Homo sapiens: one gene and its partners. The gene in region 1 interacts genetically with each later gene. Each region holds a gene or a part of one and is shown on either strand. Other genes may lie near its edges.

Region 1 (5,628 bases):
CATACTCTATCCTCCAGTCCCCTCTGAACCCAGAGCACAAAGTGCTGAGAGCCTCCCTGCCCCTCTCCCCTTACCTTGACCCTGATATCCAACTTTCCAGGACAAGCCCCGCCTCTACACCCTCCCACCAACACCACCACCATAGTGCAACCCCAATGTAGTCTCCTGGCCCTTCCTGGTCCCCTGATTCCTGAGCAGAGATACCAGAATCTTCTTCAGGCCTAGCTCTGACCAAGATCTCTTGACATCACCTGAGACCCACCTGTCTCCCTACTGAAGCCCTAACTCCTAATGTGACTGTCTCTCTGCTGACCCACCTGGCTCCCTGCTGACCTGGGAATTACCTACAGACATTTGTTGTTTGATCTTGAAGTACCCAAGGCCTAGCTCATACAGGATACCGACAAATACTTGCCGAACTTGGACTGATTTTCCTCCATGGATCGCACTATTTTGAGAGACTTTTTTTTTTTTTTTTTTGAGATGGAGTCTCGCTGTTGCCCAAGCTGGAGTGCAGTGGCGCAATCTTGGCTCACTGCAACCTCCGCCTCCCAGGCTCAAGTGATTCTCGTGCCCAGCCTTTTTTTTTTTTTTTTTTTTTAGAGGTGGGGTCTTGCTATATATATTTTTTGTATTTATTTATTTTAGTGGAGACGGGGTTTCACTATGTTGGCCAGGCTGGTCTTGAACTCCTGACCTCGTGATCCACCTGCCTTGGCCTCCCAAAGTGCTGGGATTACAGGCGTGAGCCACCGCGCCTGTCCTGGTCTTGCTATATTGATCAGGCTGGTCTCGAACTGCTGGCCTCAAGCAATCCTCCCATCTCAGCCTTCCAAAGTGCTGGGATTACCAGCACTTTGTGAACCACCATGTGAACCACCATGCCTGGCTCTTGAGAGACTATCTCTACCAACAGCGGCTATTAGGGAGAGTCAATCTGCTTTATCCATTTTTTTTTTTTTTTTTTGACAGAGTCTCACTCTGTTGCCCAGGCTGGAGTGCAGTGGCACATTCTCTCATCACTGCAACCTCTGCCTCCTGAGTTCAAGCGATTCTTCTGCCTCAGCCTCCCGAGTAGCTGAGATTACAGGTGCCCGCACCACGCTCAGCTAATTTTTTGTGTTTTTAGTTGAGACGGGGTTTCACTATGTTGGCTAGGCTGGTCTCGAACTCCTGACCTCGTGATCCACCCACCTTGGCCTCCCAAAGTGTTGGGATTACAGGCATGAGCCACCGCACCCAGCTGCTTTGTCCATTTATTGTCAACCAAGGATTATGGCCCATTCCTGTGAGTGGCCTGACCCAGCCAGCAAGACCCCCGGCATTAGGAGGCAAAGACATCAGGCCTTGAACCATGCCCTCAGCCCACCCCCACCCTGATAATAACTTCTTCTCCTCCCCGCCTTGGCTTTGTTCACACGGCATCCTCCCATCTCTTCTTCCCTTTGCTGTCCCTCCTCTGCCTCCTTCTCTGGCTCTAGGAGGCTCGGCCTTCTCTGGGAGAGAGGATTTAGTCCTAGCCGCCATCCTGCCTCCCAGGTCTTTCTCAGTACCCTCTGGTGTCACACTATACCTCCCCCGTCACTTCACACCCTGGCTTCCTCCCATTGAAGCCCTTCCCCACCAGGCCGAGACCAGGACTACCCCCTGCCCCTCCATCTCCCTTTATGTCCCGTATGTGATGAATCTTGCTTCTCCACTTCTCAGTGAGTCTCCATCAGCTCCTGCCTTGCCACCCCACCATCGTCACCTCATGTCCTGTAACAGTCCCTCTGAGCCCCTCTCACTCCCATTCTGCCAGGCCCGATAGCACAGTGACTTTGACAACCCTCTGGGCTAGGATTGCTGTTCCCATTTTACAGATGAGGAGACAGGCTCAGAGATTCAGTGGTAAAACTGGAATCTTACTTGCTCCAGCCTGAACTATGAGGAACTGAACTATATTTTCCTGTCTAGCAGAATTCCATCCTAAATACCTATCTACCTCCCCCCCACACCCCACTGCCCATCAGAGACAACCCAAAATATCTGGTCTGGCTACTCTAGCCTCCTCCCACCACCCTGGACAGCCAGGCCCTTCCCAGCTTCCCTCCACCAGCCAGGGATCGGAGAACTCACTATGCCTCTGGCACCTCGGAGCCTTTGCTGATGCTGATCGCTAAGACTGGAATCCTTTTCTCCTCCCTCCGCTCCGTGGACCTATCCATCGTCCAGGACTCAAATGTTCCCTTGTCTACACCAATGCCTAAGTGTCCCAAGGGCTGGTGGTTCCTTCTTCTGTGTACCGTGAACAACACATGCCCTCACTAGTGCATTAACTGACATCATTGCACTGTGTACACGCAGACTCTCCGCTTTCTTCAACTGAGTTTTCCAGAGTGTCCCTCCAATCGGTGGGCAAAGGAAGGGAGAGGGGGACAGCACCTACTCGGGACAGACACAGGGAGGGTGCAGATTGGATTGGCCCCTCCTTCTCTCCAACCTAAGTTGTTTTCATGTTAGCCGCCTCCTCCTATGACCCCAAGTCCTGCCCTTTATCCTGTCTGGGGGTAGAGACTCCAGCTGGTCTGGGCCCTCCCTTTGAGGCTCACACAGCTCTCAATACCGAAGTTATTTAGCGGCCAGTCCTTCGAGGGTGACAGGTCCGATTCTTCCCAGAGAGCCAGGTGGCGGGGCACGGAGCTGGGTCCCAGCCCCCAACCCCACCTCGCTGCGCGGGCTCTTTGGCCAGGAAGCCAGGGTCTTGGGACAGTGAAGAGCCTTTGCGCATGTGCGACTGCACGGATTTTCCCCCCCCGCCCCTTACCTCCCTCCACCCAGTCCCAGAGCTTGAGAGTCCTGCGGCAGGGCGGGGCCCACAGTCCTACCCACCCCGCCCCCCCGACCCCCGAGCGCCGCAGCGGGTGGTGGGGCGCTGATTCTGCCCAATCTCGGTTTCCCTTCCCTCCCACAGCCGGGAGTGGGGCTCCCGGTCTGGCCCGTTTTGGGCGTCCCCACTCACGGGTCAAGCCTCGGCGGGGCAGGAGATGACGGTGCAGAAAGGGCCGGGCAGGGTGGGGGTGGGTGCAGCAGCTGCGGCGGGGGCGGGGCGGCCAGGGCTGCTGGGAATAGGGAGGGTGAGGGTTCTTCCCCGGGCACTAGGAGCCACACCGCGGAGGCCGCGCGCTGGCTGGGGACGTGCATGTAGTCAGCTTTCCCTCCCCACCCGGGGCGCACCAGGAGATGAGGCCAGGAGGGGGCAGTTCGGCCCGCGGCCCCACACGTCCAGCGCCCACTCAGGGCCTGCCAATTTCCAGGTGCTTTCCATCTATCTTGTCATCGACCCCTCTTCTCTGCCTGTCACAGAGGAAGTTCAGAGAAGGATACCAACTCACCAGGATCACAGAACGCATGCATTGCAGAGCTGAGCGCGACCCAGAAGCCCCCGCTTCCCAGAGATTGCAGCGGCCCCGCGCCAGCCCTGGACCCGGGCCTAAGCAAGGGAGCTAGGCACCGGATCCCCAAGCACCTCCACCCTCCTGGGGTTCCTCTATTAAAAACCTAGTATCTGGACGCTTCTACAAATGCAAAATCACCCCCCACCCATAACTCCTGTGCTCCCTGGTCGATAGAGAAAAGAGACCAGAAACAGAAAAAAAAAAAACGGAGTTTATGTGCAGGGATAGTCGGGGTAGTGGAGAGAGGCCATTTAGTAGTGGGGGCTTCGCTCACCCCCGATAGGGGGCGCCAGGAAGCCAAGAAGGATGTGCAGCGGCGGACTGGTTCCAAGCCCCTTCAGAGGCGCGGGGTCTTAGGGGGAGGGACTGGCTTCCGGGCCCAAGTAGGAGGCAGTCCGGCTCTCAGGAGTGCTATAAATGGTTAAAGCCCCAGGCAGGCCCAGGGCTGGGCCTCCCAAGGCCGCCTGGACATCCAGCAGGAGTGGGGCCCCGAGCGTGGGGTCCTTCCCTAGGAGAAGTGGGACTGCGCTCACCAGGGGAAATGTTCCCCCTCCTTTCTTCAGGGAAGGAGAGCCCTGCCCGCCTGCCTTCTGCTCAGTTAGGATAAAACATCCATTCTTAACCTCCCCACTCTCGCCCAATGGTGAGGGCATGGGTGGCTCAAGGAACGCTCTGCAGTGCAGCCTGAACTCAGGATTTCCCTGCAAATTGCAGATTGCCCCCTCACTCAATCAAGGTAGCTCAGCCCAATCACGGCGTCCTCCCAGGTAGGAGTCATCACAACCATTACCTGGGCTTGGAGAATTTAACCCCTTGACCGCCAGCTCAGGCTCACCCCGCTCTGGAACCAAGGGCTGCATCTGCGTGAGAACCGCAGGGAGCAGCTGGGGAGGGGACCTAGCAGCTGAGGGGGACAGCTGGGAAATCACTGTGACAATTCTTCTAGAGACACGGCTTTGGCTCACAGAGAACAGCTATGGACCAGAGGGCTTGACTCAGCCACCCCTGGCCTCTGCCCTCCCCGACCCACTTCTTACCAAGGACAGCTCCATGTCCAAGTCCATCAGGGTCCATTCTCGCCCTTGGAGACTGGGGCCCAGCACCTGAGGAGAGCTCTGGGTCAGTGGTGCCCTCCCCAGGCTCCACAGAGAGCTAGACCCCACCAGGTCTCATGCCCCTGTTTCAGCAGAAGGGGTACTCACATCTAGAGGCCCTGCAGGTTCCACACTTTCTTGAGGGGGCTGAAGCAGCATCGGAGGCAGCAGACTCTCTGGGCTCCTGTCCCCGCTTTCCAGGCCCAGAGGCCCCCTGTGCAGACAGAACTGCTTTTGGCCTGCAGTGTCCACCCCGCATTAAGTTCCCAAGGAACCCAGATGCATCAAGATTTTAATCCCCCAATCTTTAGAAAATGATAGGAGAGGATCCCCATCCTCTCTCCACCCCCAACCTCCCCACTCCTGCCATAAATGGCACAGAGAAAGTGCCTCTGCTTCCTACCTGGGACCTGAAGTTTGGGTGGTGGAGCTGGGGCTTTGGGACCCTTCCCCTCCCTATGCAAGTATCAATATCCATGCTTCTTTCTCTTCTTTCTTTATTTCTTTCTTTCTTCCTTTCTTTTTTCTTTCTCTCTCTCTCTCTCTTTCCTTCTTTCTTTCTTTTCTTTTTTTTGGAGACAGTTTCACTATGTCACCCACTATGTCACTATGGCACTGTCTTGGCTAACTGCAGCCTCCACCTCCCAAGTTCAAGCGACTGTCCTGCCTCAGCCTCCTGAGTAGCTGGGACTACAGGCAAACGCCACCACACCCAGCTAATTTTTGTATTTTTAGCAGAGGCGGGGGGTTTCACCATGTTGGCCAGGCTGGTGTTGAACTCCTGACCTCAAGTGATCTGCCCGCCTCAGCCTCCCAAAGTGCTGGGATTACATGCATGAGCCACCTCATAGCCACCAATGCTTCTTAAACTATTGTGTACTTTGCAGTCACCCCAGGGAACTCATTTCATATGTAGGTTCCTAAGCCCTTCCGCAGATGCTGAGTGCCCTGACTGGGAGGCTCTGCTTTCCACAGAACTCTGATGCTGGGGCCAAGAAATCAGGTGAGTATCATGGAGTCAAATGGCTAGGAAGCTTTGTGGGCTGGTAAGGGCTGTTCTATCACAGGGCTCATGGGCCAGCTGGGGCTCTGCTCAC
Region 2 (7,786 bases), on another chromosome or scaffold:
GGCAGGGGAGGTAGGGGTAGGCTGACAGAGAAGTAGGGAGCTGGAGAGAAAGAGGGAGGGAGGGCAGGGTGGGAAGCAGGTCGGGGGTTGCTGGGCAGCCCCTCTGCCTGCCTGACCCCTGCCTGGTTCCACAGGGCACTACCTGAAGGCCCCTTGCACGGAGCCCTGCGGCAACTCCACCTGCCTTGTGTGTCCCCAAGACACCTTCTTGGCCTGGGAGAACCACCATAATTCTGAATGTGCCCGCTGCCAGGCCTGTGATGAGCAGGGTGAGGGGCTTCTCAGTGCTTGGCAGGGAGTTCCTAAGGACAGGCCTTTCTGAAGGAAGTGGCTGGCTCGGGCCCAAACTTGGGGTGTGAGGGTCCTGCACCCACCCTTGCCAGAACCCTCCACCCTGATCCTCCTTCAGGGTGCCCTTGCCCCTTCTCTCTTCCTGGTGACCTTCCCATCTCTCCATGTGCCTTGGCCTCTGGTCGGCCTTAATCTCTGAGCTTCTCTCTTTTTTAGGGTAGCCCTGTACCTGTCTGTCTTTCGCCTATTTCTGTCTCCATTATCTTGGGATAATGCCTCTGCCTCTCCATGGGAGCCTTTGGCCCTGACTAACTCTCCACTCCCCATCTCCCTGCACCCCCACCAGCCTCCCAGGTGGCGCTGGAGAACTGTTCAGCAGTGGCCGACACCCGCTGTGGCTGTAAGCCAGGCTGGTTTGTGGAGTGCCAGGTCAGCCAATGTGTCAGCAGTTCACCCTTCTACTGCCAACCATGCCTAGACTGCGGGGCCCTGCACCGCCACACACGGCTACTCTGTGAGTACCCCCACCCAGGGCTCTCTACTCCCAGACCCCCTTCTCCCTGCCTGACCCACTCCTGTCCCATGGTGACGCATGCCTCTCCTGGATTGCAGGTTCCCGCAGAGATACTGACTGTGGGACCTGCCTGCCTGGCTTCTATGAACATGGCGATGGCTGCGTGTCCTGCCCCACGTAATTCCTAGCTGTCGTGGGATGGAGGGAAGGGCGGCTGGGAGCAGAGCAGGGGCCTGGGGTGGGGCAGGTGCTGCTGGTTCAGGAATAGGAAGAGGGGATAGGGAGGAGGGAGCCTTGGCCCTGTGATGGGTGGGCCCCACTTCAGGCAAACTTAGATGGCAAAAGAGCAATCTGGATCCGCCTTAGCCAGATACATAAGGGTATTTGCCTTCACTTTCAGCCAGCATTCCCCCCAGCGATCCTAGCCAGATATTACAGATGATTTGTCACTTACACAGAGAGTCACATTGATATAGCTTTAAAACTTGGGCTGAAGGAGGTTGAGGCTGCAGTGAGCTATGATCGTGCCACTGCACTTCAGCCTGGGCAACAGAGCGAGACCTATTAAATAAATAAATAAATATTAAATCTATTAAATATTAAATATTAAATCTATTAAATAAATAAATACAAAGGGCTGAGAGTCAGGACTGTGCTGCTAGTTCTCTAGGGGATCTTGGGCAAGTGCAGAGAATTCGCGTCTCTGATGTGTGGTGTCCCTTTCTCAACATGGGATGTTAGCAGCTAATTCACAGGCCTTTGATCAGAGGTAAGGGACTTTCTGTAGCTATTCAAGTCTTTTTTTTTTTTTTTTTTTTTTTTTTTTGAGATGGAGACTTGCTCTGTCACCCAGGCTGGAGTGCAGTGGCACGATCTTGGCTCACTACAACCTCTGCTGCCTGGGTTCAAGTGATTCTCCTGCCTCAGCCTCCCAAGTAGCTGGGACTACAGGAGCCCACCACCACCCCCGGCTAATTTTTTGTATTTTTAGTAGAGACGGGGTTTCACCGTGTTAGCCAAGATGGTCTTGATCACCTGACCTCGTGATCCACCCGCCTTGGCCTCCCAAAGTGCTGGGATTACAGGCATGAGCCACCGCGCCCGGCCTCCATTCAAGTCTTTATTGAATATCTGCTATGTTCTACACACTGTTCTAGGTGCTGGGGATGCAACAGGGGACAAAATAGGCAAAATCCCTGTCCTTTTGGGGTTGACATTCTAGTGACTCTTCATGTAGTCTAGAAGAAGCTCAGTGAATAGTGTCTGTGGTTGTTACCAGGGACACAATGACAGGAACATTCTTGGGTAGAGTGAGAGGCCTGGGGAGGGAAGGGTCTCTAGGATGGAGCAGATGCTGGGCAGTCTTAGGGAGCCCCTCCTGGCATGCACCCCCTCATCCCTCAGGCCACCCCCGTCCCTTGCAGGAGCACCCTGGGGAGCTGTCCAGAGCGCTGTGCCGCTGTCTGTGGCTGGAGGCAGAGTAGGTGGTGTGCTGGGAATGCGAGTGGGAGAACTGGGATGGACCGAGGGGAGGCGGGTGAGGAGGGGGGCAACCACCCAACACCCACCAGCTGCTTTCAGTGTTCTGGGTCCAGGTGCTCCTGGCTGGCCTTGTGGTCCCCCTCCTGCTTGGGGCCACCCTGACCTACACATACCGCCACTGCTGGCCTCACAAGCCCCTGGTTACTGGTAAGTACACACACCCACACACGCACCCAGAAGCCTGGGGTCAGGATGGGTAGCCCAGAGTCTACTCAACCCTGATACAGAAGGGGAAACTGAGGCAGGGAGTGTGGGGTGCAGAGGAACCCTAGAGGAGCTGTACCAGCACCCAGGTCCAGGAGGCTTGCCTGGTGGCTGACCGCAATCTCTCTGTGTCTGTCAGCAGATGAAGCTGGGATGGAGGCTCTGACCCCACCACCGGTAAGAACCTCACTGTGTGATTCTGGGCTGCCTTCTGGAGCTGGAAGATCAAGCCTTACTATGATCCCTGGAGCTTGGCACGCGGCCAGCACCGGGTAGCCCTAGTGGACAGAGGTGTTGGGAGCAGAGTCATCAGTGGATGAGACCAGCACAGTGCCTGCCCTCAAGGGGTGCTCAGTCAGCTGGAGTTCAGATTCGTACACAGGAGCTAACAGTTCAATGGAAGGAGAGCCCCATGGTGCTGGGGGACAAGAGGAAGGAGGCGGGGGCAGGGGACTCAAGGCAGAAGCAAGAGTTCTGCTGGGCTACAGTGAGAGCAGGGCCAACTGTGGGAGGTGTCATTGCGGGGGTGTCTGCTGACTGAACCAGGGACTGTCCCCTCCTGGAGAGGCACTGCGGGTAAGGGGCCTTACTTGGCAAGCAGGGCTGACCTGGGGCCCCTCTTGGCTTCCAGGCCACCCATCTGTCACCCTTGGACAGCGCCCACACCCTTCTAGCACCTCCTGACAGCAGTGAGAAGATCTGCACCGTCCAGTTGGTGGGTAACAGCTGGACCCCTGGCTACCCCGAGACCCAGGAGGCGCTCTGCCCGCAGGTGACATGGTCCTGGGACCAGTTGCCCAGCAGAGCTCTTGGTAAGGGACATCAGTGGCCTGAGGCCTTGACCCCATTCTCCTGTCTGCGGTGGGAAGTTGTGGTTTCACAACGTGTTCCCTTTCTGCCCCCTAACTGACGGAGTCCGCCCTATGCCCTGACCCACCGGATCCAGCGGGCTTCAGCCCTGGGGTACCCGCACGAACGCCCCTGACTCTGCCTCCCGACCGCGGCCCACGTACCCCAATTGGCTCTCTCTGGCCCTGCCCCAGGCCCCGCTGCTGCGCCCACACTCTCGCCAGAGTCCCCAGCCGGCTCGCCAGCCATGATGCTGCAGCCGGGCCCGCAGCTCTACGACGTGATGGACGCGGTCCCAGCGCGGCGCTGGAAGGAGTTCGTGCGCACGCTGGGGCTGCGCGAGGCAGAGATCGAAGCCGTGGAGGTGGAGATCGGCCGCTTCCGAGACCAGCAGTACGAGATGCTCAAGCGCTGGCGCCAGCAGCAGCCCGCGGGCCTCGGAGCCGTTTACGCGGCCCTGGAGCGCATGGGGCTGGACGGCTGCGTGGAAGACTTGCGCAGCCGCCTGCAGCGCGGCCCGTGACACGGCGCCCACTTGCCACCTAGGCGCTCTGGTGGCCCTTGCAGAAGCCCTAAGTACGGTTACTTATGCGTGTAGACATTTTATGTCACTTATTAAGCCGCTGGCACGGCCCTGCGTAGCAGCACCAGCCGGCCCCACCCCTGCTCGCCCCTATCGCTCCAGCCAAGGCGAAGAAGCACGAACGAATGTCGAGAGGGGGTGAAGACATTTCTCAACTTCTCGGCCGGAGTTTGGCTGAGATCGCGGTATTAAATCTGTGAAAGAAAACAAAACAAAACAAAAACGGCTTCTTGGCGTTTCTGCGGGGCTGGGGTGTTAAGTGGACTGGACTTTTCTCGAGGGATTCGAAGGGGACGGGAATCTTGTCACCCCGGGATCTGGCACCCATGGTGGAGTCCAGTGTGGCCTTAGCTCCCAAGCCTGCCCCTCCCGAGTCCACTCTGGCTCAATTACCCCGAGAAGGAGAGAGCAAGTCGCGGCCACAGCGAGTGAGTGAACCGGAGCCCAGATGAGAGCGCTTTAATGGGGCTGCGAGGTGGCGGAGACAGGGTCGGGATGGGGTGCAGCAGTTGGAGACACAGGGTCAGGGCCCCTCATCCTCTATTCACTCCACCGGGGCAGTGAAAGGGTCCCGGCAGCGAGTGGGTCTGGCTGGGGACGGGGCGCAGACTTGAGGGAGGTGGGGCCAGAGGTGGGGTCCCGGGGGCCACAAGTGCGGCCCGGCCAGACAGGCAGTTTTCATGTTTCTGGTAAACAAATGACTGAGAGGAAACCCTTGGCGGGGATAAGAAATGAGGCCCGGGCTAGGCCGCGCGCAGATCTGGGTCAGAGAGGAAGGGAAAACCCCTTCCCCGAGCTCGGGGCCTGCCTCCACCCAGGATGCGCCAGCGACGCCGGTTCCGGGGTGCGGGGGAGGGGGCTGCATCCTGGAGGGGGCTGAGCCCCGCAGGAAAACAAAGTCACCACCCACGGGGCTGGGGAGAGCTCTGCACTCTTTGATAGTCAACGAACATGCAAATATATGTAAGTCGGCATGCAAATAAGCAGCATTTGTTGTTGTTTGCGTCAGCAGCTTGGGCACTTTTTCTGGGCAACCGTGGCGGCGTGTGCACTCCAGTGTTGCCAAGGGCTGGGGATACGGGGGGCCAGGGTGGGGGTCAGGGAGGGTTTCCAGCGCAGGAGGGGAGGGCTGTGCGGCTCCCAGCCTTTCCACCAGGGCCTGGCTGGCTGGGGCTGGGGCGGAGGGCCCCACGGAGCTGCGAGGCTGCGGACAGGAGTCTGCGGCCTCTAGTACTTAGCGATGTCCCCCTTCTTCAGGATGACCTGTCGCTGCCAGGGCGCCAGCTTGCTCTCATCGTAGCCCAGCGTCCGCAGCTTCTCTGACTGTTCCTTCTCCCGCCGCAGCTCCTCCTGCTTCTGTCGCTCCTCCTCTTTCCTGAGGCAGTGGGGAGGGGGGCAGACCCGGTGAAGTCTGGGGCCAGATACCCAGGCTGGCAGAAAGGGTGGGGCCAGGCACCAGGCAGAGGCCAGGTCACCCATGCAAGGGGTGGGTTACTGAGGGCTGGGGCTCGGTTGCTGAAGACAGAGGGGCTAGATTGGGGGCAGAATGGGGTTACTGGAGCACAGGGGAGCTGGGTGAGTGGGAGGTTAAGGCTGGATTATTGTGGGCTGGGGTTTTACTGGAAACAGAGGTGCTGGGTCACTGTGTGGCACCATGTGAGGAGGTGGTATTGCTGGGTGCAGCAGCAAGATTACTGGGACCAGGACTTGAGTTGTGGGGGAGCTGTCAATATGAAGTATTGAGGACTGGGGTGGGGCTGCTGGGGAGCAGAGAGACCATATAATTGAGAGAGGGACTGAGAATTAGAGACAAGTTATTAGAACATAGAGGGTAGATCTGCCTGTTGACAGAGTAGTCACTAAGCACATGTGGCTGCTGAACATTTGAAATGTGGCTGGTCTAAATTGTGATGGATTGCAGGTGTAAAATGTGCATGATATTTCAAAGACTAAGTTTTATTATTATTTGAGTCAGGGTCTCGCTCTGTTGCCAGGGTGGAGCGCAGTGGTGAGATCATGGCTCACTGCAGCCTCGACCTCCTGGGCTCACGTAATCCTCCCACCTCAGCCTCCCAAGTAGCTGGAACCACAGATGTGTGCCACTACGCCCAGCTATTTTTTTTTTTTTTAATTGAGACAGAGTCTCGCTCTGTCACCCAGGCTGGAGTGCAGTGGCACGATCTCGGCTCACTGCAACCTCCACCTCCCAGTTTCAAGTGATTTTCCTGCCTCAGCCTTCTGAGTAGCTGGGATTACAGGAGCGTGCCACCATGCCCAGCTAATTTTTGTATTTTTAGTAGAGACGGGGTTTCACCATGTTGGTCAGGCTGGTCTTGAACTCCTGACCTCAGGTGATCATTCTGCCTCCGCCTCCCAAAGTGCTGGGATTACAGGCGTGAGCCACCGAGCCCAGCCCGCCCAGCTAATTTTTTTTTTTTTTTGAAATGGAGTCTCACTCTGTTGCCCAGGCTAGAGTACAAAACGGCGTGATCCTGGCTCACTGCAACCTCCGCCTTCCAGATTCAAGTGATTCTGCTGCCTCAGCCTCCCGAGTAGCTGGGATTACAGGCATGCGCCATCACGACCACCTAATTTTTATATTTTTAGTAGAGACAGGGTTTCACCATGTTGGCCAGGCTGGTCTTGAACTCCTGACCTCAGGTGATCCACCCGCTTCAGCCTCCCAAAGTGCTGGGATTACAGGTATGAGCCACTGCGCCCAGCCCCCTGCAGCTAATTAAAAAAAATTTTTTTTGCAGGCCTGGTGCGAAGGCTTACGCCTGTGATCCCAGCACTTTGGGAGGCTGAGGCGGGTGGATCACCTGAGGTCAGGAGTTCGAGACCAGCCTGACCAACATGGCAAAACCCGGCCTCTACTAAAAATACAAAAATTAGCCGGGCGTGGTGGCGGGCGCCTGTAATCCCAACTACCAGGGAGGCTGAGGCAGGAGAATCACTTGAACCCAGGAGGTAGAGGTTGCAGTGAGCCAAGATTGTGCCACTGTACTCCAGCCTGGACAACAAGAGCAAAACTCTGTCTCAAAAAAAAAGAAAAAAGCCAGACTTGGTGGCTCATGCCTATAATCCCAGCACTTTGGGAGGCCGAGGCGGGTGGATCGCTTCAGGTCAGGAGTTTGAGACCAGCTTGGCCAACATGGTGAAACCCCATCTCTACTAAAAATACAAAATTAGCTGGGTGTGGTGGCACACGCTTGTAATCCCAGCTACTTGGGAGGCTGAGGCAGGAGAATCACTTGAACCCAGGAGGCAGAGGTTGCATGAGCCCAGATCGCCACTGCACTCCAGATTGGGTGACAAGAGTGAAACCCCATCTCAAAAAAAAATTTTTTTTTTTTTTTTTTTTTCGCAGAATGAGGTCTCACTGCATTGCCCAGGCTGGTCTCAGACTTCTGGGCTCAAGTGGTCCCCCTGCCTTGGCCTCTCAAAGTGCTGGGATTACATGTGTAAACCACCATGCCTGGCCAAAGACTTACTTTTACAAGAGGAGTATAAAACATCTCATTAATAATTTTCATAATTGATTATGTGTTGAAATAATATTTTTGATATTTTGTGCCAAATAAAACAGTACTAAAATGAAGCTCACCTATATCCTTCTACATTTTCACTGTGGCTACTAGAAAATTTTAAATTACATCTGTGGCTCTCATTACATTTCTATTGGCCAGCACTGGGCTGGGTGAGATGACTAGGGGCAGAAAGTACATTCTGAGGGCCAGACAATCAAGGTGATTGATAGTGGGGTTAGGTTAACTGAAGGGTAGAAAAGGCCAGGTTAATAG
Region 3 (8,398 bases), on another chromosome or scaffold:
GCCAGGCTCTTCATCAGGTAAAGTGTTTAGGAGAGATATAAAGATAAAACTGATGAGAATTCTGCACTTGAGCTACAGCATACTTTCCAAGAATTACAGCATGAGATATAAAATGAAAAGAAGGCTTGGAGGAGATTCACACGAAATAGTACTGTTCAGGAGAGGGGGCGATAATTCCAATGGAAGAGATAACTGACTTCATGGAGGATAGAAGGAGATGGTATTTGAACTGCCCTTGAAGTATGGTTATATTTTGGGGATGTGGAGATGTGGGGTAGGGTGATATGCTGGGGTTCCAGATGGTCCAGAAATATACAATCACCAGAACCAAAGATCCAGAGGTAGGAGATATGAGCTGTTCAATTTGGCTGAGCTAACAGTGTTTGGAGTGGGATCTTGAAGAAGCTGAAAATGAAGATACCAACTAGACAGTCAGAGAAAGACTTCCAATGTTTGACTGAACTGCAATTTTATTGTGTATGCATTGAAGAATCTTTTTTTTTTTTTTTGTATTCTCTAAAGATTTTTAAAATATTTTAAGTTCTGGATACAAGTGCAGGATGTGCGGGTTTGTTACATAGGTAAACGTGTCCCATGGTGGTTTGCTGCACCTATCAACCTATCACCTAGGTATTAAGCCCCACATGCATTAGCTAGTTATCCTGATGCTCTCCCCGCTACGGCCCCTGCATCAGGCCCCAGTGTGTGTTGATCTCATCCCTGTGTCCGTGTGTTCTCATTGTTCAGCTTCCGCTTACAAGTGAGAACATGTGGTGTTTGGTTTCCTGCTCCTCTGTTAGTTTGCTGAGGATAATGGCTTCCAGCTTCATCCATGTCCCTGCAAAGGACATGATCTCATTCCTTTTTTAAAAAAAAAAACAAAATTATTTCCATAGGTGTTTGGGGAACAGGTGGTATCTGGTTACATGCGTAAGTAATTAAGTGGTTACTTGTGAGATTCTGGTGCACCCATCACCTGAGCAGTATACACTGAACCCAATTTGTATTCTTTTATCCTTCACCCCCCTCCCACCCTTTCCCCTAAGTCCCCAAAGTCCATTGTATCCTTCTTATGCCTTTGCATCCTCATAGCTTATCTCCCACTTATGAGTGAGAACATACAATGTTTGGTTTTCCATTCCTCAGTTACTTCCTTTAGAGTAATAGTCTCCAGGTTGCTGTGAATGTCATTAATTCATTCCTTTTTATGGCTGAGTAGTGTTTAGGTGAGGTTATTTGTAAGTAATTAATATTGAGTAAATAAGATTCATCCATAGTGGCAAAGCCACATAACTTCTAAGTATCTTAAACTATATCTAAATGGTACCAAAACATGCAGTCAATTCTAAAAGCTCAGCTAATGATATTTCATAATATAGGAAAATATTCACAACATATTTTTGTGTAAAAAAAAGCAGACTTCAAAATGGAATATGCATTATGATTCCAATCATGTAAAAGCTATACATGAACACATACAAAGATTAACAGATATAAACAAATGGAAGAATGAATGGAGAGATAGATGATAGACAGATTGAGTGGTGGTGGAGAATAACAGATTTAAAAAGAAATTGTGCCTTTCTATATTTTCAAAACCATTTAAATAAGTATTACCTTTGGAGTTAGAAAATGATATGTATTTTAAATCCATAATTCAACTACTTATCTATATGATGTCAAACTGGATTAGGCTGAATTATCAGCAAGTGAATAAAACAGTTCCTTCATCCATGGAGAAACATCCATTTATGACATTCTTGGAATTCCTCTTGTTAGAATTCTTTATGAATTTAAAATAGAAACATGGCCAGACTCAAGATTTCAATACAAACATTACTTTTTCACGTTCAGTAATAACCAATTAAAAGAATTAATGAAAAATCTGATTCACTGTATCACCAAAAGCTGTAATGGCTGCACTGCACAGTATTCCATGGTGTATATGTACCACATTTTCTTTATCCAGTCTATCTTTGATGGGCATTTGCTATTGTGTCTTTGCTATTGTGAAGAGTGCTGCAATGAACAAAAATGTGCATGTATCTTTATAATAAAATGGTTTATATTCCTTTGGGTATATACCCAGTAATGGGATTGCTGGGACAAATAGTATTTCTAGTTCTAGATCTTTGAGGAATAGCCACACACACTTCCACAACGGTTGAACTAATTTACATTCCCACCAACAATGTAAAAGTGTTCCTACTTCTCCACAGCCTCGCCAGCATCTGTTGTTTTTTGACTTTTTAATAATCACCATTCTGACCGGCATGAGATGGTATCTCATTGTGGTTCTCCTTTGCATTTCTCTAATGATCAGTAAGGTTGAGCTTTTTTTTATATGTTTGTTGGCCACATAAATGTCTTCTTTTGAGAAGTGTCTGTTCATGTCCTTTGTCCACTTTTTGATGGGGTTGTTTTTTTCCTTGTAAATTTGTTTTAAGTTCCTTGTAGGTTCTGGATATTAGACCTTTGTCAGATGGATAGATTGCAAAAATGTTCTCCCATTCTGTAGGTTGCCTGTTCACTCTAATGATAGTTTCTTTTGCTGTGCAGGAGCTCTTTAGTTTAATTAGATCCCATTTGTAATTTTTGCTTTTGTTGCAATTGCTTTTGATGTTTTTGTCATGAAACCTTTGCTTGTGCCTATGTCTTGAATGGTATTAAATAGATTTTCTTCTAGGGTTTTTATAGTTTTAGGTTTTACATTAAGTCTTTAATCTTGAGTTAATTTTTGTATAAGGTGTAAGGAAGGGGTCAGTTTCAATTTTCTGCATATGGCTAGCCAGTTTTCCCAGCACCATTTATTAAATAGGGAATCTTTTCCCCATTGCTTGTTTTTGTCAGGTTTGTCGATGATCAGATGGCTGTAGATGTGTGGTCTTCTTTCTCTGGTCTCTATTCTGTTCCATTGGTCTATGTGTCTGTTTTTGTACCAGTACCATGCCATTTTGGCTACTGTAGCCTTGCAGTATACTTTGAAGTTGGGTAGTGTGATGCTTCCAGCTTTGTTCTTTTTGCTTATTGTTGTCTTGGTTATACGGGCTCTTTTTTGGTTCCATTTGAATTTTAAAGTAGTTTTTTTCTAATTCTGTGAAGAATGTCAATAGTAGTTTAATGGGAATAGCAATGAACCTATAAATTACTTTGGGTAGTATGGCCATTTTCATGATATTGATTCTTCCTATCCACGAGAATGGAATGTTTTTTCATTTGTGTCCTCTCTTATTTCCTTGAGCAGTGGTTTGTAGTTCTCCTTGAAGAGATCCTTCACATCTTATTAGCTGTATTCCTAGGTATTTTATTCTCTTTCTAGCAACTGTGAATGGGAGTTCATTCATGATTTGGCTCTCTGCTTGTGTATTGTTGGTGTATAGAATGCTTGTGATTTCTGCACATTGATTTTGTATCCTGAGACTTTGCTGAAGTTGCTTATCAGCTTAAGGAACTTTTGGGTGGAGATAATGGGGTTTTCTAGATATAGTATCATGTCATCTGCAAACACAGTTTTACTTCCTCTTTTCCTATTTGAATACCCCTTATTTGTTTCTCTTGCCTGATTTTCTTGGCCAGAACTTCCAATACTATGTTAAATAGGAGTGGTGAGACGGCATCCCTGTCTTGTGCCAGTTTTCAAGGGGAATGCTTCCAGCTTTTGCCCATTCAGTATGATAATGGCTGTGGGTTTGTCATAAATGGTTATTATTTTGAGATATTTTCCATCAATACCTAGTTTATTGAGAGTTTTTAACATGAAGCAACGTTGAATTTTATTGAAGGCCTTTTCTGTATCTATTGAGATAATCATGTGGTTTTTGTCTTTAGTTCTGTTTATGTGATGAATTATGTTTCTTGATTTGCGTATGTTGAACCAGCCTTGCATCCCAGGGATGAAGCCAACATTCCAAACATTTTATTTATTATTTATTTATTTATTTATTTTTGAGACAGAGTCTCGCACTGTCGCCCAGGCTGGAGTGCAGTGGCAAGATCTCAGCTCGCTGCAAGCTCCACCTCCCAGGTTCATGCCGTTCTCTTGCCTCGGCCTCCCAAATAGCAGGGACTACAGGCGACCGCCACAACGCCTGGCTAATTTTTTGTATTTTTAGTAGAGACGGGGTTTTACATGTTAGCCAGGATGGTCTTGATCTCCTGACCTCGTGATCCGCCCGCCTTGGCCTCCCAAAGGGCTGGGATTATAGGCGTGAGCCACCGCACCCGGCCTCCAAACATTTTAATCTCATAACAATGCATCACTTGGGTTAACTAGGTTGAGATAAATATAAACTGTCAATTTTTTTTCCCCTCACATAAAAGTCCAGAGGTAGGTAATTAGGGCTGACACAGTGATTCCAGTGATTCTGCTCCTTCGTGCCCTCATCCAACAAGGCTTCTTGCTGCTCACTACCCAGCTACCCCTACGTGTGGCCCGTATCTTCATGGTTCAAGATGGCAGCTAGAGCTGCTAGGTAGTTAAGATCTCTCTCACACACTTTCCTTCTGTCATAATTAACACAGGGTTTTAGCTCATGAGGCCAAGCATACACATTACTTCCCACTGGCACCCCTATGTAATATTAAATGCAAAGATACCCTCAGGAGTCCTGTGCTCAAAACAAGTACAAAATAACTTTTTGTTGTTGTTTGTGGTGCTGGTGGTTTTATTTATTTATTTTTTCTGAAACAGGGTCTCACTCTGTCTCCCATGCTGAAGTGCAGTGGTGTGATCACAGCTCATCACAACCTTGACCTCTCTGGGCTCAGGGGATCCACTCACTTCAGCCTCCCAAGTAGCTGGGACTACAGGAACACGCCACCACGCTCAGCTAAATTTTGTCTTTTTTTGTAGAGATGGAGTCTTGCTATGTTGCCCAGGCTGGTCTCAAACTCCTGGGCTCAAGTGATCAGTCCACCTCAGCCTCCCAAAGTACTCAGATTATAGGTATGAGCCACCATGGCATCAAAATAACTTGGAAAGTAGGAATAATTGCTTGTTGTTCCTGAAAACTGTCTCTTCGACACTTTTCAGACTCTGTTACATGATCATGACAAAATATACACAAATAGACATACAGATACACATCAGTTAAAACCTCAAGAAATAGAAAAATAAATAAATCATAAAATATTTAAAAAGTGGTATTCTGACACACTGCCCAGAGGTACCCCTGTTCAGCAATTTTAAAAAATTTTAAAAATAGCCCTCTCCCCCTCCCTCTCTTCTCCCTCTCCCCACGGTCTCCCTCTGATGCCGAGCCGAAGCTGGACTGTACTGCTGCCATCTCGGCTCACTGCAGCCTCCCTGCCTGATTCTCCCGCCTCGGCCTGCCGCGTGCCTGCCATTGCGGGCGCCGCCACGCCTGACTGGTTTTCGTATTTTTTTGGTGGAGACAGGGTTTCACTGTGTTGGCCGGGCTGGTCTCCAGCTCCTGACTGCGAGTGATCTGCCAGCCTCGGCCTCCCGAGGTGCCGGGATTGCGGGCAGAGTCTCGTCCACTCAGTGCTCAATGTTGCCCAGGCTGGAGTGCAGTGGTGTGATCTCAGCTGGCTACGGCCTCCGCCTCCCAGCCGCCTGCCTTGGCCCCCCAGGGTGCCGAGATTACAGCTTCTGCCCGGCCGCCACCCCGTCTGGGATGAAGTGAGGAGCGTCTCTGCCCGGCCGCCCATCGTCTGAGATGTGGGGAGCGCCTCTGCCCCGCCCCCCCGTCTGGGATGTGAGGAGCTTCTCTGCCCGGCCACCCCGTCTGAGAAGTGAGGAGCCCCTCCGCCCGCAGCTGCCCCGTCTGAGAAGTGAGGAGCCCCTCCGCCCGACAGCCACCCTGTCTGGGAAGTGAGGAGCGTCTCCGCCCAGCAGCCACCCCGTCTGAGAAGTGAGGAGCCCCTCCGCCTGGCAGCCGCCCCGTCCGGGAGGGAGGCGTGGGGGTCAGCCCCCGCCCGGCCAGCCGCCCCGTCGGGGAGGGAGGTGGGGGGTCAGCCCCCGCCCGGCCAGCTATCCCGTCCGGGAGGGAGGTGGGGGGCGCGTCCGCCTGGCCGCCCCATCTGGGAAGTGAGGAGCCCCTCTGCCCAGCCGCCACCCCGTCTGGGAGGTGTACCCAACAGCTCATTGAGAACAGGCCATGATGACGATGGCGGTTTTGTGGAATAGAAAAGGGGGAAAGGTGGGGAAAAGATAGAGAAATCAGATTGTTGCTGTGTCTGTGTAGAAAGAAGTAGACATGGGAGACTTCATTTTGTTCTGTACTAAGAAAAATTCTTCTGCCTTAGGATGCTGTTGATCTATGACCTTACCCCCAACCCTGTGCTCTCTGAAACATGTGCTGTGTCCACTCAGGGTTAAATGGATTAAGGGCAGTGCAAGATGTGCTTTGTTAAACAGATGCTTGAAGGCAGCATGCTCCTTAAGAGTCATCACCACTCCCTAATCTCAAGTACCCAGGGACACAAACACTGCGGAAGGCCGCAGGGTCCTCTGCCTAGGAAAACCAGAGACCTTTGTTCACTTGTTTATCTGCTGACCTTCCCTCCACTATTGTCCTGTGACCCTGCCAAATCACCCTCTGTGAGAAACACCCAAGAATGATCAATTAAAAAAAAAAAATTTAAAAATAATAATAGGCCAGGTGCAGTGGCTCACACCTGTAATCCCAGCACTTTGGGAGGCCGAGGCTGGTGAATCACCTGAGGTCAGGAGTTCAAGACCACGCTGGCCAACATGGTGGAAACCCTGTCTCCACTAAAAATACAAAAATTAGCCGGGTGTGGTGGCAGGAGCCTGTAATCCCAGCTACTCGGGAGGCTGAGGCAGGAGAATCGCTTGAACCCAGAAGGCAGAGGTTGCAATGAGCCAAGATGATGCCACTGCACTCCAGCCTGGGCAGCAGAATGAAACTCTGTCTCAATAATAATAATAATAATAATAATAATAATAATAATAATAATAATAAGCAACTCTAATGATATTTCAAACAATGGTCCCCTTTTAGGTCACACTATCAAATCAGAGAAAGATATACTTGACTAGCTGTAAAATGCAATTTGAGGTCTAGGTGAATGAACAAGTAACCTCTAAATCATAAGGCTATTGTTACAAACTGAATGTTTGTATTCCCCCCAGAATTCAAAGGGGAGACAGTATCCCCAAAGTGACAGTATCAGAAGGTGGGGCCTTTGGGAGGTAATTAGGTGATGAGGGTAGAGCCCTCATGAATGGAATTTGTGCCCTTAAAGATATACTTGAGAGTTTGCATCCTCTTTTTCTGCCATGTGAGAACATCAAAAGACTGACATCTGGTAAGATCTGGAAGCATGCCTTACCAGACACCAGATATGCTACCACTTAGATGTTGGATTTCCCAGCCTCCGGAACTGTGAGAAATAACTGCTGTTTAAGTCACCTGGTCTATGGTAATTTGGTATAGTTGCCCAAATGGACTGTGATGGTTAATACTGAGTATCAACTTGATTGAATAGAAGGATGCAAAGTGTTCCCGGGTACATCTGTGAGGGTGCTGCCAAAGGAGATTTAACATTTGAGTCAGTGGACTGGGAAAGGCAGACCATCCTCAATCTGGGTGGGCACCATCTAATCAGCTGCCAGCACTGCCAGAATAAAAGCAGGCAAAACATGGAAAGACTAGACTGGTGTAGTCTTCTGGCCTCCATCTTTCTCTCATGCTGAATGCTTCCTGCCCTCAAACATTGGACTCCAAGTTCTTCAGCTTTGGGACTTGAATTGGCTTCCTTGCTTGCAGATGACCTATTGTGGGACCTAACCCTGTGATCATGTGAGTCAATACTCCTTAATAAACTCCCCTTTTTATATACATGTATCCTATTAGTTCTGTCCCTCTAGAGAAACATGACTAATACATTGAGTAAGATAGTTCCTGTCCTTTTTTTTTTTTTTTAAAGAGATGGGATCTTGCTATATTGCCCAGGTTGGTATGCAGTGGCTATTCGTAGGCACAATCACAGCATGCTATGACCCTGAACTCCTGGGTTCAAAAGATCCTCCCACCTCAGCCTCCCAAGTAACTGGGAATACAGGTACCCACACCCACACCCAGCTAATTTTTGTATTTTTACTAGGGACAGCGTTTACCATGTTGGCCAGGCTGGTCTCGAACTCCTGACCTGAAGTGATCTGCCCTCCTTGGCCTCCCAAAGTGCTGGGATTACAGGTGTGAGCCACTACGCCCAGCCTTTTGGTTTCTTATGTGTAGGAGAGGATAAGTTTCTTTCTCAGAGTGTGCTGCAGCCAGACATAATATTTCTCCTTGGCAGAAACTCTGCTGTTCCAATCATACATGTAGCCATTGAGTTCAATGTGAAGATCCAGGAGTGGGCGTTTTCTGGAGAAAACAAGAAAGGCAAAATTTAATGCCATGCAAATATC
Region 4 (8,398 bases), on another chromosome or scaffold:
TATTCCTTTTTTATTCCTTCTCCAGCATTTTGTCCCTGTCAGCACATCAGAGCTAAACATAAGTCATCAGTCAAAAGGCAGTCTCAGCCAGGTGCAGTGGCTCACACCTGTAATCCCAGCACTTTGGTAGGCCGAGGCGAGTGGATCACCTGAGGTCAGGAGTTCAAGAACAGCCTGACCAACATGGTGAAACCCCATCTCTACTAAATACAATTAACTGGGTATGGTGGCACATGCCTGTAATCCCAGCTACTTGGGAGGCTGAGGCAGGAGAATCACTTGAACCTGGGAGGCAGAGGTTGCGGTGAGCCAAGATCATGTTATTGCACTGCAGCCTGGGCAACAGAGTGAGACTCTGCCTCAAAAAAAAAAAAAAGAAAAAATACAGTCTAGCATTAGGAATAGAAAAAAATAACTGAAATGCAATAGGCCCTTGTTGATTTGGAAGCACTTTGGCAAGACTAATACAGTGTGTTGGTTCTGTGAAAAAAATTCTGATCCTTTGGAAATGTGGAATGTTGATTAAAAAAATGACTGTAAAGCAAGTCTGAAGGCACTGAAGCAGGACAGAAGGGAGTCTCTCAGGAGAAATGACTTCTGCAGCTGGGTCTCCTACTTTTACTCATTCAGCATAAAACATAAGAACAGGAACAGAAAAAGCAGGACACACAGACTCGAATGCCTACCAGAGACTAGTCAATCATGGGCCAGTTATAAGAAAATGAGCTGCCAGAAATAGAAGCAAATGTTATTTTAATAGAAATGTTTTAATTTTAAAAGAATACAAATCAAGGGTCCAAAATATTTTTTTCAATACCAAGCGCATAGTGACGAATGATGTAATCAATGGACTTAATCTCTGTGCCTTTTTAAAGGCTTAGATTTGCTTAAATAAACAAATCAAATGTTAGCAGGGACCAGGTACAGGTGGCTGACACCTGTAATTCCAGCACTTTGGGAGGCCGAGGCAGGCGGATCACTTGAGGTCAGGAGTTCAAGACCAGCCTGGCCAATATGGCAAAACCCCATCTCTACTAAAAATACAAAAATTAGCCATGTGTGGTGGTGTGTGCCTGTAGTCCCAGCTACTTGGGAGGCTGAGGCAGGAGAATCACTTGAACCAGGGAGGTGGAGGCTGCAGTGAGCTGAGATCACACCACTGCACTCCAGCCTGGGCAACAGAGTGAGACTTTGTCTCAAAAAAAAAAAAAAAATGTTAATAGGGGCCATTACAGACTCCTGATGATTATAATCAGTCTACATTAATTTTCTAAACTTACCTCCATTTGCAAAACAAATCAATAATTGATGTTATGCCTGATAAACACTATTTCCAAAAGTTCTTTGATCAAATCAAAATTATTAATCTCTCAATGGTGATGGATGATTTTTATTTTTTGTTGTTGTAGTCACTTTTTATATTCACATACTACAAATTGTTTTTTCATTTAACTTGTAAGTTCTTGATCTTAGCTTAATTTGGCTGAGCAAAAGAATTGCTAACCAGTTTAATATTTAATACTTGAAAATGCTATTTCTGTTAAGAACCCACAATTTCTGCTGCACTTAACAGCCCAACCTGTAAAAATGCAGCCTCTATAAGAACTTTGATACCACAGCAATTTCATCGCCTAATACATTCCACAGAAGCGCTATGCATTTAGCTGAATTCAAAACAAAGCTTATTACTGCTTTTCATTATGTCTTTTAGTAAGATTTGATATTTTATATTTATACATACATTACTTTTATTTAAAAAATTAATTTTTAAAAAAAGCAGGAAACTGATAAATGTATAAGAATGTTCTTTACCTCCACAGGGAAATATGTTTAAATCCATTTTCTTGAAACATGGCCCTTTTGGTATAGCTTTTGTTCTCTCCCTTTTGATTTAAAAAAAAATAGGCATAAGAAATATTTTACTTTTCTCTTTTGGGTTCTACTGTACCTGCATCCAAGTGTGTTCCATTCCTGTCCCTAATGCTGTGAAGTTTGGGCACTTTCTCCCGTGCTTTTGCAAAATTGTGATTGTTGATGATCAGACAGTATCCCCGAGGTTTGCTTTTCATTTGGTAAACTTTGTCCAAAGTCTGGAAAACAAAAACCCAACCCAGGAGCTGACTCTGTGGGTCAAACACTAGAGATGTAAACAAACAACTCCCTAGTAAGAGGACTTGCTTTCCATTGCACCACCCCAACTCGGGGTCGTTTCCTCGAAGAACTAGTTTCTACCTATTTCCTTCACACAGGACCTCTCAGACTTCTGCCCCATCGTTGTAAAGTCAGTGTCCCAATACCTGGGCCTCCTGAGCACTTTGCACATATATTAATATTGTTGTCATCACATTGTATTATTGTTTGTTCTCATTTCTGCTTCCCATACTATACAGAAGACTCCTTGAGGTTCATAACATCTGTGCCAGGGACTACGGTGTATTAACTTGTGAGAGCTCAATCAAGAGTCACTGAATGAATGAATGTCTTTGGCTGCCCCCACGCCATGACTTGTGATTCTCTTGGCTGTCTACTGAACTCATCTGTGCTTCGTGGCTAACAGCTGAGGGTCTCCCATTCATGCATTGCACAGTGTGGTCCCAGGATTTTAAAGGTGATGGCTTAACCCAGCTCTCAGGACCACGGTGGCTGCTGGGAAGAGATGGGCTGGTCAGGGAGGTCCTGGCTACACTGTAGGTTATGGTATCCAAACTGTAGTACCTGATAGTACTGGCCAGGGATGGCGCTGTGTCCTATTCATTCTCCTAGGGCTGTTTCAGTACCGAGAAACTCAGCATTTAGTTGGAGGTCTGCGTAGCCCCTTGAGGTGGAGAAAAGGACTCCAGGCTAGGAAGCCCAATTCCTGCCTCTACTTCACCTTATGACTTTGGGCAAATAACCTGTTATCTTAATATGTTAACTCTAAGATATTAAATATTTGATTAAGTTTGTACCAAGTATGTTAAGTTTTTATTATTTACAGTTGTGTTCTAAGTATTTATTAAGCATATTAAGTGTATTTACTGAGATACTAAGACACTAAGATTTGGCCAGGCACGGTGGCTAGTACCTATAATCCCAGACTTTGGGAGGCCAAGGCAGGAGGATTGCTTGAGGCCAGGAGTTCGAGACCTGGCTTGGCAACGTAGCAAGACCCCTGTCTCAATAAAACATTAAAAAAGGAAAAAGATACTAAGATTTACTAAGATATTAAGACAGTGTTTTTAGCTCTTCAGTGGGGACAATGCTTGTAGCATGCTATACTGTTTAGAAAGTACCACATTACTTGGGTTAATCCTTGACTTTCAGATGAAAGAGGTCTGGTAATTTTCTCAGGAGCCCACACTAGTGAATAATCTCTCTCAAGCCTACTTCAGATATTCAGGATTTCCTCTTCTTCCTACCATGAGGAGGAGCAGATCGTCTAATAAGTCAGGATGTATTTGGTGGATTGTTGATTACATAAAGAGAAGTTATTATGCCTAAAAATTACATGTTTCTGCTGGTTCACTGAGACAAAAACACAGAGATGGCTAGATTGTGAGAGTTTGCTGCTTACACCTCATCACCAAGGAGAAGCATTTTTGAAACATTAAGCTAAAGGAAAAGGCTTGGCTTTTTCCATTCCTGCTAGACTCTTTCTCCAAACCACTCCCCCATCCAGGCTGGCACGGCTGCTAGAAGATTTGGTAGGAGGCTTATTACCCCCTCCACCCTCCAACTATTCCAGTATCTTCATCTCGGGTCTTAAAATAAAATTCAAATGTATAGAAAACTGAAGGAGTCACATTTTAAAAATTAAGTCACATTTTTAACTTTTTTTGTGTGAATTTTTTCTACAGTTCTCAAAATTTTCAGTAAGTTTCTGCCCCTTGTCAGTTTATCTGGCAGCAAAAAAAAAAAAAAGCTAACAAATTAAATAACTAGAATCTGTAATGTAAAAAAAAGGATTTGGAGGTTTCCGTCTACCTGTGATTCACTATCCTGTTCTCTTGGAGAGTCCGAGATTGTCATTACCCCACACAACTCCTCCCCTGCAAACAACGAAGAGACACATCTAGAATGAGACATGGCAGGAAAGGTACACTGGTAATGAAATATGTAGCACATAGGACAACATAAGGTCTTTTTTAAGATGAAAATTCAAGCTGGGAACAGGGGCTCACGCCGGTAATCCCAGCACTTTGGGAGGCCAAGATGGGCAGATCACTTGAGGTCAGGAGTTCAAGACCAGCCTGGCCAACATGGTGAAACCCTGTCTCTACTAAAAGTACAAAAAAATTAGCCGGGCGTGGTGGTAGCCACCTGTAGTCCCAGCTACTCAGGAGGCTGAGGCAGGAGAATCACTTGAACTTGGGAGGTAGTGGTTGCAGTGAGCTGAGATCGCACTACTGCACTCCAGCCTGGGCAACAGAGTGAGACTCTGTCTCAAATAAATAAATGAAATAAAATGAAAATTCACAGACTGCCATGAATATAATCTCCTTTCAAGCCAGAGAGATTCTGCAAGCAGGGCAATTAACATGCTTCTGGAAACACAAGATCAAGTTGTCTCCTCGCCAAAGAGAAAAACATACCAAGAAATGCCATAATTTTATATTGCTCCACATGGCCAGGTTGAATTTTTGTGGTATTTGTGAGATACTCATTAATAAAGCCACTAGCTCAGGATGAATTAATGATTTAGTACTTTACTCCTTAAAGTATTCTTAAGGCCTTAGGCTCAGCAGGCAGAGGGGAAAGGGAAGGACAGCCTGCATAGACATTAATCTTTAAAATACATTTGAGTGATCCAAAATGTATTTTACACACACACACCACAAAGAGCCAACGTAAAAATACAATAAAAATATTCATAATATGAATGGAGTGATGGTGTTCTTGGACTTGTAAAAATTTCTCTGAATTTAAAATAATCTTCAATTAGTGTATATAATTTTTCTAATCAGAAAGAATACTTTATTAATTGCCTATAGTCCCAGCACTTTGGGAGGCCCAGGTAGGTGGATGGCTTGAGCTCAGGAGTTCAAGATCAGCCTGGGCAACATAGCGAAACCCCATCTCTACAAGACATACAAAAATTAGCCGGGCATGGTGGCTTGTGCCTGTGGTCCCAGCTACTCAGGGGGTTGAGGCAAGAGGATCATCTGAGTCCAGGAGGTCGAGGCTGTTGTGAGCCAAGATTGCATCACTGCATTCTAGCCTGGGGGACAAAGTGAGACACTGTCTCAAAAAAAAAAAAAGACTATTTGATTAATCAAAATTTTGAAGGAGATCGTTGAGAGCTCTCTCTCTTGGTTCAGCCTCGCTTATCAGGTAGAAAAAGTGAAAGGAAGTTGAAAGGAGTGACTTAGTGTAGAAGGTGTTGAAAGAGAAAGTGACTTAACCAAGAAAATTATGAAACATAATTTAAATCCAGCTACTCAGTGCATAACATGAGCAGCACGTCAAGGAGAAAAAAAAAGCCACATAGAAAAAATGATGTTAAATTACTTACTACTGACTAACTCTGCACCTATTTCAAACTTGCCAGCTTGGGCTACAGGTCTTAGGAGAGCAGGTGCGGCCGGGCGCAGTGGCTCATGCCTGTAATCCCAGCACTTTGGGAGGCCAAGGCAGGCAGACCACCTGAGGTCAGGAGTTTGAGACTAGCCAGGCCAATATAGTAAAACCCCATCTCTAATAAAAATACAAAATTAGCTAGGCGTGGTGGTGCACGCACCTGTAATCCCAGCTTCTCAGGAGGCTGAGGCAGGAGAATTGCTTGAACCTGGGAGGCGGAGATTGCAGTGAGCCGAGATGGTGCCACTGCTCTCCAGCCTGGGAAACAAAGTAAAACTGTCTCACAAAAAAAAAAAAAAAAAGAAAAAGTAGAGCAGGCACGTTAAGATGTGCATGTGGTAGAAGGCTGTGGGGAGGACACATGCAGGTACCAGATAGTAAATTAACTAAATCTTGAAAATGTATCTCCAAGCATTACCATTTGAAAATTCATCAGGACTTCCTTCAAGGCTGCTGCTTCTCTCTGAATTAAAAGGGGAAACCCCAAACAATATTTGATTAGAAACAACTGTGATATGGAGCGATTTGTCAGTTTCAATTTTAGAGTAGGTTTTGCCGATTCCCGGCTGTCAGGTTGTTTCTACCTTTGCTGAATTCTTCATAGTCGTTGATTATCTTCAGCAGGCTCTTGTTGATTTGGGCACAGACTCTTTTCAGGATGTCCAACTTTCCTTCTCCCAGGATGACCCTCTTCTCCATCTCTATGAAAATATCCAGCAGGTTCTAAGAGGAGGAGAAATAAAGTTGGGAATCTGGATTGAGCCCTACTGGTTTTTAGATTAGATTTTTTTTTTTAATTTCCAATTTCTCCAACCAAGGACCTGCCCTTGCTTCCCAAGTTTCTGACAGTTTCTGCTGGTCTCTCACAGCCAGCAGGCTACTAGGGAAGCGATTCCATGTTTTCTGGCCCAGAAAGACAGAAGTGAGAGGATAAAGGAGAAGCCATGTCAGATGTCACCCAGTCCCCAGGCCCTGTGCTCAAATCTCCTGCGAATGCATTACTTGGGGACTGTGAAACAACCTGAGACAGCAGCCCGGTCATCATGGTGACACCCTGGGGAACAGCCTCACCCCCAGCATTGCCTCTCCAGACCTGAGTACATACAGACACACAGACACACACACACAGACACCACATGCACATACACACACAGATACAACACACACAGAGTATACTCAGTGATACACACACAGGGGCATAAATACAATACACACTACACAACACACAGACACACATACCACACAGAGAACACACACACAGAGATACACAGACACACACACCACTTATACAGAGACACACAGAGATACACATATCACACACAAATACAGACACACACTATACACAGAGAAAGGCACACACAGACACGGAAATACACACACAACACACAGACACAATATACACACAGAGTTTCAGGTCCCAGGTTGTTTCGGGGACTGCAGAAGTGGAGGAAATATCTCAGACCCACCGCAGTCTTTCCCAGCTCTGCCGGGTCTGGGCTGCATCTGCACAGCCTCCTTCTCCCGGCCTCTGACTCTGCCTTGCTCCCAATAATTAACATGAGCAGCACTTCGGTCTAAAGGAATCACATCTGTAACACTCGTGCTGACAACTTTCTTCTTCTAGTTAAAAAGTGAGAATCCAGGTTGCTTTTACCAAAATACCCCTCTCTTTGGTCTCAGAAATGCCCCCTGGCTAACCAAGTCTCAGGACTAAATCTCAGTAAGATACCAGGTCTTACCATGTCATCATCCAGTTTGCATTTGGAGATTTCCTCTTGCAAAAGAAACTTAAAAGACCTCAATTCTGATCTGCTCACTTCTTCTGAAATCTGATAGAGCATGACCCTGTGGTGGGAAATGGAGACACTTTAGAAATCTTTTCCCAAATAATTTCCCATTTGATATATGGAGTCACAGTGGGCTTGATTCCAAAGGCCTCCCTTCAACATAAAGCCAGTTAATGGCATGGTTTATGAGTTGAGCCCTTGGAAAGAGGCTGGTGTGGTGACACAGAAGTCTACTGGCTCCTCCCCGACTTTCCCACCCTTAACAATTTAAAGTTCTATCAACTTTTCTTTCAGTTTATTTCAGTTGAGTAAATCTTGTTTTCCTTTTTTTTTTTCTGTAAAATGGAGATTTTGTTGCAATAGCAAAATGCTTTGCCTTTTGGAAATTATGCTTTTCAAAATGCACATTGGCTCATGACTTCCCTAATCAAAACTGGTCAGTATTCTCCCAGTCATTATCTTCAGTAAGACGGCCAAGCATTCGGTTCTGGAATACAAAGTCTCCGAATACATCCCTATCACAGACCAGACCGCAAACACGAAAGGACCTGAAGCCAAACACACCCAGCTGCCCTGCCCTCACCCCTTTCTGTGGTGCCGCTACACCCCATCCCCTTGTCTATCTGCAGAGGCCCATCCATGAACAATCAGCTCAAGCATTGCCTGAGCATCCTCAAAGCTGCATTCACTCCACTATGACTTAGTAACCCCAAAACGATAACACACATAATTGTCTGTTGGCCTGGTGCAGTGGTTCATGCCTCTAATTCCAGCGCATTAGGAGGCCAAGGCAGAAGGAGGATCACTTGAGCCCAGGGGTTTGAGACCAGCCTGGGCAACATAGCAAGACCCCATCTCTACCAAAAACATTTAAAAATTAGCCGGGTGTGGTGGCATGCACCTGTGGTCCCAGCTACTCCAGAAGCTGAGGTGAGAGGATCACTTGAGCCCAGAAGGTTGAGGCTGCAGTGAGCTGTGATCATGCCACCACACTAAAAATAAAAACAGAAAATAATTGTCTGTTTAGAAACTGTTCAAGTCCCCTAGTGGCCAGG

What was found.
Region 2: of NOL3 (region 1) and TNFRSF25, changing one suppresses a phenotype caused by changing the other (phenotypic suppression), as found in Homo sapiens cells (one study listed by BioGRID).
Region 3: of NOL3 (region 1) and CFLAR, changing one suppresses a phenotype caused by changing the other (phenotypic suppression), as found in Homo sapiens cells (one study listed by BioGRID).
Region 4: of NOL3 (region 1) and CASP8, changing one suppresses a phenotype caused by changing the other (phenotypic suppression), as found in Homo sapiens cells (one study listed by BioGRID).

The regions. Positions count from the first base shown.
Region 1 is NC_000016.10:67,167,948-67,173,575, reverse strand, and holds the start of NOL3 (nucleolar protein 3), read right to left. Parts: upstream 3,039-5,628; 5' UTR 3,002-3,038; intron 2,425-3,001; exon of another isoform or gene 1-2,424. Other genes in the region: HSF4 (heat shock factor protein 4), read right to left, coding at 3,791-3,945, 4,228-4,297, 4,475-4,540, 4,640-4,745.
Region 2 is NC_000001.11:6,457,571-6,465,356, reverse strand, and holds the end of TNFRSF25 (tumor necrosis factor receptor superfamily member 25 isoform 2 precursor), read left to right. Parts: intron 1-134; coding exon 135-269; intron 270-637; coding exon 638-805; intron 806-903; coding exon 904-982; coding exon of another isoform or gene 983-986; exon of another isoform or gene 987-1,246; intron 1,247-2,209; coding exon of another isoform or gene 2,210-2,229; coding exon 2,230-2,285; coding exon of another isoform or gene 2,286-2,292; intron 2,293-2,386; coding exon 2,387-2,494; intron 2,495-2,690; coding exon 2,691-2,728; intron 2,729-3,182; coding exon 3,183-3,363; intron 3,364-3,594; coding exon 3,595-3,923; 3' UTR 3,924-4,171; coding exon of another isoform or gene 4,172-4,177; 3' UTR 4,178-4,571; downstream 4,572-7,786. UniProt on the Homo sapiens protein: Receptor for TNFSF12/APO3L/TWEAK. Interacts directly with the adapter TRADD. Mediates activation of NF-kappa-B and induces apoptosis. May play a role in regulating lymphocyte homeostasis.
Region 3 is NC_000002.12:201,163,791-201,172,188, reverse strand, and holds part of CFLAR (CASP8 and FADD-like apoptosis regulator), read right to left. Parts: exon of another isoform or gene 8,355-8,398; coding exon 8,216-8,354; 3' UTR 1-8,215. UniProt on the Homo sapiens protein: Apoptosis regulator protein which may function as a crucial link between cell survival and cell death pathways in mammalian cells. Acts as an inhibitor of TNFRSF6 mediated apoptosis.
Region 4 is NC_000002.12:201,270,519-201,278,916, reverse strand, and holds part of CASP8 (caspase-8 isoform 2 precursor), read right to left. Parts: intron 7,402-8,398; coding exon 7,296-7,401; intron 6,280-7,295; coding exon 6,141-6,279; intron 6,020-6,140; coding exon 5,975-6,019; intron 5,815-5,974; coding exon of another isoform or gene 5,717-5,814; intron 4,029-5,716; coding exon 3,964-4,028; intron 3,395-3,963; exon of another isoform or gene 3,281-3,394; intron 2,091-3,280; coding exon 1,949-2,090; exon of another isoform or gene 1,375-1,948; intron 1-1,374. UniProt on the Homo sapiens protein: Thiol protease that plays a key role in programmed cell death by acting as a molecular switch for apoptosis, necroptosis and pyroptosis, and is required to prevent tissue damage during embryonic development and adulthood.